2 separate regions of the Homo sapiens genome follow, and region 1 is linked to region 2. A link means that fine-mapping ties the variant in region 2 to the expression of a gene that starts in the linked region. Tissue or cell type: whole blood. Region 2 holds a variant in brackets; the other region holds the start of a gene. All regions are shown on one strand. Distances are between the middles of the regions.

The links. PIP is the estimated chance that this variant, and not a neighbour inherited with it, causes the effect.
Region 1: it holds the start of BSCL2, and the variant in region 2 is fine-mapped to the expression of BSCL2 in whole blood (TOPMed, PIP above 0.99).

Annotation. Positions count from the first base shown.
Region 1 is chr11:62,706,159-62,708,772 of GRCh38, reverse strand. It overlaps BSCL2 (BSCL2 lipid droplet biogenesis associated, seipin), which reads left to right and starts at 1,349. Exons shown (of 11, transcript NM_001122955.4): 1 at 1,349-1,664. The coding sequence starts at 1,578. It overlaps GNG3 (G protein subunit gamma 3), which reads right to left and starts at 1,097. Exons shown (of 3, transcript NM_012202.5): 1 at 858-1,097; 2 at 379-478; 3 at 1-95. The coding sequence starts at 477. It overlaps HNRNPUL2-BSCL2 (HNRNPUL2-BSCL2 readthrough (NMD candidate)), which reads left to right. Exons shown (of 24, transcript NR_037946.1): 14 at 1,449-1,664. RefSeq lists enhancers at 1-645, 1,965-2,614 and a silencer at 2,306-2,614.
Region 2 is chr11:62,486,163-62,488,920 of GRCh38, reverse strand. It overlaps a transcript of AHNAK not described here. Among named protein-coding and RNA genes, the nearest start is that of AHNAK, 59 kb to the left of the region's middle. The variant C/T (reference allele first, on the strand shown) is at 1,099.

The DNA.
Region 1 (2,614 bases), 220 kb before region 2:
AAGGGGTTCTCCGAAGTGGGCACAGGGGTGATGAGGGGATCCTCACAGGCGTGGGCATCACAGTAAGTCATCAGGTCTGCTGCTGCCTTGGACACCTGGGACACAGCCAGGAAGGGTATTGTTAGCCAGGACCTCTGAAGGGGACTGCAGCCTCCCTCCCCAAATGGGTTCTCTTTTGCCATCTCCAGGGCTCCTTACGACTTGTCTTCTCCCTCATCCCCCCCAGAGGCCTGGGGACAGCTCTCTCTACAGAGCCCCAGACTCCTCCCCTGACCTCAGGGAGTGAAGGAAAGAACGCATCTCTTATCTTGAGCTTTGGGAACCTGCAGCACAGCACAGCCTGGCCAACTAATGGGAGCCAGCCAGGGTCCCACCTACCTTTATCCGACACAAGCTGGCTTCAATCTTAAGCTGTTCCACCATCTTGCGTGCTTGCCCAATACTCATAGTGCTGTTCACCGGGGTCTCACCTTTCATCCTGGAAAAAAGAGGGACCTCTCAGAGCACAGTCTCAGCTGGAGGCCCCCCTCCATGCTCACTCCACACCAACCTTTACAAGGCTGTGGTCATACCCCAATATTTTGTTCCCCTCCTATCCTCCTCCTCCTCCTCCAGTGGACTGTCTCATCCCTGTATTCCTCATGGAAAAAAATAGGGTGGGATGAGGTGCTCCCCAAACTCCCTCATGGCCTGGGCCACAGATCATTAAACCTTACACAAATGATTTAAGGCTTTTCAGCCCTTCAAACCATGTGTGTTCCCAGCTCTGAAGACCTCAACCAACCCTGATGAGGAGGGCACATCACCCCTGTCTGCTCCAGTGAGCCCCAACAGGAGAAAAACAGGCCATTACTTACCTGAAGCCACAAGCGGCAGTAGCAGCCCTGGGTGTAGGGTCAGTGGAGGGTACCAAAACCTTCTGCCTGAAATGGGTGCCCCACCCAGTAGGGAGTTGCAGCTGAAAGTATCTGATGCAGAAGCAGTGACTATACGAAAGGAGGCCCCTGGGGAGGGCCAGGCCAGAGGTCTGGTCTCAGTTTCTGCAGCTCAAGCACTGTCTGGATGGCTGGTACCTGAAGGATGAAGGATGCTAGAAGGAGCTGCTCAGATCCTGGAGCATACCAACTGCCTGGCCAGTGGGGGAGCCTAGCTGCCTGCATCCCTGCGCACACCCCCACTGTCGCTAGTTCACTGCCTGCCCCTCCCCCATTGCAGGCATCCTGACTCTGGGCTAGAGACCTCCCCAACAGAGCTGAGGCCAAGGCCGACTCCCCCTCTCAAATGGCGTGGTCTGGGCCTATGACGGCCCCTGCAGTGGAGTCTGTACTGGCTGCGGGGGACCCTGCTCATTTGAAAATCTGACATCAGCTGGGCAGTCGCCCCCCTCCTCCTTTCCTCCCTCTACTCTGACACAGCACTTAGCACCTGAATCTTCGTTTCTCTCCCAGGGACCCTCCATTTTCCATATCCAGGAAAATGTGATGCGCCACAGGTATCAGCGTCTGGATCGCCACTTCACGTTTTAGCCACAAGTGACTCAGTGGAAGATCCAGAGTCAACAGAGGCTCGTCAGGAAGATGTCTACAGAAAAGGTAGACCAAAAGGAGGAAGCTGGGGAAAAAGAGGTGTGCGGAGACCAGATCAAAGGACCGGACAAAGAGGAGGTAGGGGCCCTTGTGGGGACAGTCAGCAGAAATATACTGGAAATAGGTGGGCTGGCGTGAAGGGGGCGGGGGGATGGATTGGTTTTAAGAATTTCATTCATTTTGAATAGATTACTTCCCACGCCCGCAGCAGTGTGCAAAGATGTACACAACACTGGCCTTGCCTCTGAAGGACTTTATCTGGGGTGATTAGACGTCTACAAAATAGAAGACTGCCAAAAGCTAGTCTAGATAATGTGCTGTGGGGACTCTGAGGGAGAGTGTATCCAGTTAGGGTCAGAGGAGGTCCACAATGCTACCACGCTGGGAACAGGGCACTAATCTGCCTGCGCAACAACGCAAGAGGCCCAGGTTGCCGCAAACTGCAACATGCTCTAGGCGAATGCCCCCGCCTTAGATGCCTACAGGTCCTAGGAGCTGTGGGCGATAAAAATCAGCGCCAGCTGGATGACCGCCTCACTCGGCCGCTTCGCGGGTGAAATGGCCTGTGGTGAAGGTGTGCACGGAGGGCTGTGATTGCAGTCTCAAGGGAGAGCCGAGCGGAGGCTGCAGTCAGCGCATCCCCTGGGGCACATCTTGGGGCCTGCAGGGAGGCAGGCGTCTTTCCCCTTTGGTCACGGTAACCGGAGGGAAACCTGCCGCAGAGAGAGCCAGTGGCGAGCGCAAGGAGACAGCGACCTCGCAGCTCGGGAAGGCTCCGCCCCGTCCCGCCCCGCCCCGCCGTGCTGGACCCCGCCCTGGGCTGAAGCCCCGCCTCCCACGGCTACAAAAGCGGCCGGCGGAGAGGGGCGGGACTTCCCCGGGAGCCGGAAGTCCCGTCTCACGGTTGCCCTGGCAGCGCGCGAGGCTGGTGAGTCGGCAGCCCTGTGGCAGCCGGCGGGCTGGTTTCCATGGTTGCACGATTAGGTAGGGGCTCCGGGCGCTTTGCCCACCCCCGAGCTGGAGGGGAC
Region 2 (2,758 bases):
CCCCCTGTCTTCCTGGGCCTTTGAACCACCACTCCAGGCCCACCTGAGCCTCCAAGTCTGGGCTCAGGGCCCCTTCTCTGTGCTCTCCCATGCTGCCCAGGCATCCCTGTTTTGGCTCCCCTGGTGCTGGGCCTCCACTAGACTTCACACTCAGTAGGGCCCAGGAGGATCTACAGCACAGTCTGCATGGAATATAAACTAGACAGATGGGCTGGGCACTGTGGCTCATACCTGTAATCCCAGCACTTTGGGAGGCCGAGGTGGGTGGATCACCTGAGGCCAGGAGGTTGAGAGCAGCCTGGCCAACACAGCAAAATCCTGTCTCTACTGAAAATACAAAAAAAAAAAAAAAAAATTAGCTGGGCATGGTGGGCGCCTGTAATCCCAGCTAATCAGGAGGCTGAGGCAGGAGAATTGCTTGAACCCAGGGGGCGGAGGCTGCAGTGAACTGGGATCGCGCCATTGCACTCCAGCCTGGGCAACAGGAGCGAAACTCCGTCTTGGAAAAAAAAAAAAAAGCTAGACAGATGATGGCAAGCTCCGCTGGCTGGCTTCCCAGTGCTTACATGGTGGCCATTTCTCTATTGCTCTTTGGGGACTGGGTTCTAGTGTTTGTGTTGCCAAATGCAGCACTTTTTGTTGTACACTTTACTTCAACATTGATTAAATTAAATGTCTCGGGATTTCAAGGGAATTGGGATTTGACCCCTTTTCTCAAAGGACTTGTACACTGGGTGCATAATGTCTGTTCATTCAATGAACGTTTATTTACTGAGCACCTTTGCAGAGCCAGGCACGGAAGGTGGCAGAATTAAAGCAGCCAGTCACAGGGATTCAGAGAAAGTCTGTGGAGCTTAGAGGAACTTCCGTGGCTTTTCATCTTCTCATGCCTTGGTTTAAAGTACAGGAGAAAGATTATAGTTCTCCTTGCCAGAGACGCCTCTTTCCCCTGATCATGGATGTTTCCTTAGAAACCAACTTGCGTGTCCCCCACTTTCATGGGCTTTGAAGCTGGAGTCTTGTGTAAACATCACTTCACGGGCATGTGAGAAACAAGCCTTTCCTGTCCCCGCCGTGAGCCTCCAGCTTTCTCTAAGT[C/T]GACTTCTCAAGGGGGTACTGCTGTTTCTTTTAATATCAAAAAACCCGTTTGAACATTACATGGTTTTCTCACGGTAACACTTCAGTCAGCTGCATACAGGGTCATTTTGGTAAATAAGTGGAAAATCAGAGAAGTATTGCTGGACTTGAAGACAAGTCTGTGCAGTTGAGAGCAGCAGAGCTTTTGAATCAAGACATCATGGGAGGTTGAGGCAGGTGAATCGCTTGAACCCGGGAGGGGGAGGTTGCAGTGAGCCGAGACTGCGCCACCGGCGACAGTGCGAGACTCCGTCTCAAAAAAAAAAGACACTTACGCTGTGTCCTAAATGTTGAAGGCGGTTTTGAGGGGTGAGGTGCTGGAGAGTTGAAGCTACAAACAGAAACCTATAAACTCATTGTGTTGGATGTCATACTGTCCTGCCTTACGCCACATACCCTCATGGTTAGGAGCTCTGCTCAGAAACTGGACTGCCTGGGTTCAAATCCTGTCTTTGCTACTCTACGTTGGGGCATGTTCCAGTTTTTCTTTCATCTGTGAGATCAGGATGATAACATCCCTTAGATGGTGGTTGTGAAGATAAAGCGAACTATTGCCTGGGCAGCGTTTATAGTGGTGCCTGACATACAGTAAGTGCTTAATAAACGTTAGCTGTTGTAATTATACCCCTTTATCAGCTTCACACTGGACTGGTCACCTAAGCTGTCACCAGACGTCCCGCACCACTGGTGGTCCACAATGTTTCTGTTCTGTTGTTTCAAACCCCTTAGCTCATTTTGCTTCTCTGACCATCTTATTCCAGTCCTCTCCTCTTTCACGATGTTCTCTGGTCTGGAATAGGCGTCTATTTGGAGTCTGCCGCTCCTTACTCAGTGAACCCTCTCTCTCTATTCTGAAGCCCTCTTGGTGGGATGGGGGCAGATATTCCTGTACTCACAGCTAACCATGGGAAAACTCTAGGGTAATTTTTCATTTGAGCTTGTGTTTATAAACCTCTAAAACCTCATAGGACCCTTGCCAGTGGGCCAATCTGTGAGTTCTCCATCTATGTAAAGAAAAAAAAAAACTGGTGGTAAAATAGACATAACATAAAATTGACCATTTTAACCATTTTTAGGTGTACAGCTCAGTGGTATACAGTACATCTACATTACGGTGGAACCATCTCCACTGTGCAGCTCCAGAACTTTCTCATCTTCCCCAATTGAAACGCTGTAGCCATTCAACACTAATTCTCCAGCCCCCGGCAACCACCATGCTCCCTCCCTCCCTCCCTCCCTCCCTTCCTTCCTTCCTTCTTTCCTTTCTTCCTTCCTTCCTTTCTTCTTTTCTTTCTTTTTTTTGAGACAGAGTTTCGGAGTTTAGCTCTTGTTGCCCAGGCTGGAGTAAAATGGCACAATCTTGGCTCACCGCAACGTCCGCCTCCTGGGTTCAAGCGATTCTCCTGCCTCAGCCTCCCAAGTAGCTGGGATTACAGGCATGTGCTACCCCGCCTGCTAATTTTGTATTTTTAGTAGAGATGGGGTTTCTCCATGTTGGTCAGGCTGGTCTCGAACTCCTGACCGCAGGTGATCCACCCACCTCGGCCTCCCAAAGTGCTGGGATTACAGGCGTGAGCCACCATGCCTGGCTGCTACTTTCTGACTGTATGAATTTGACTAC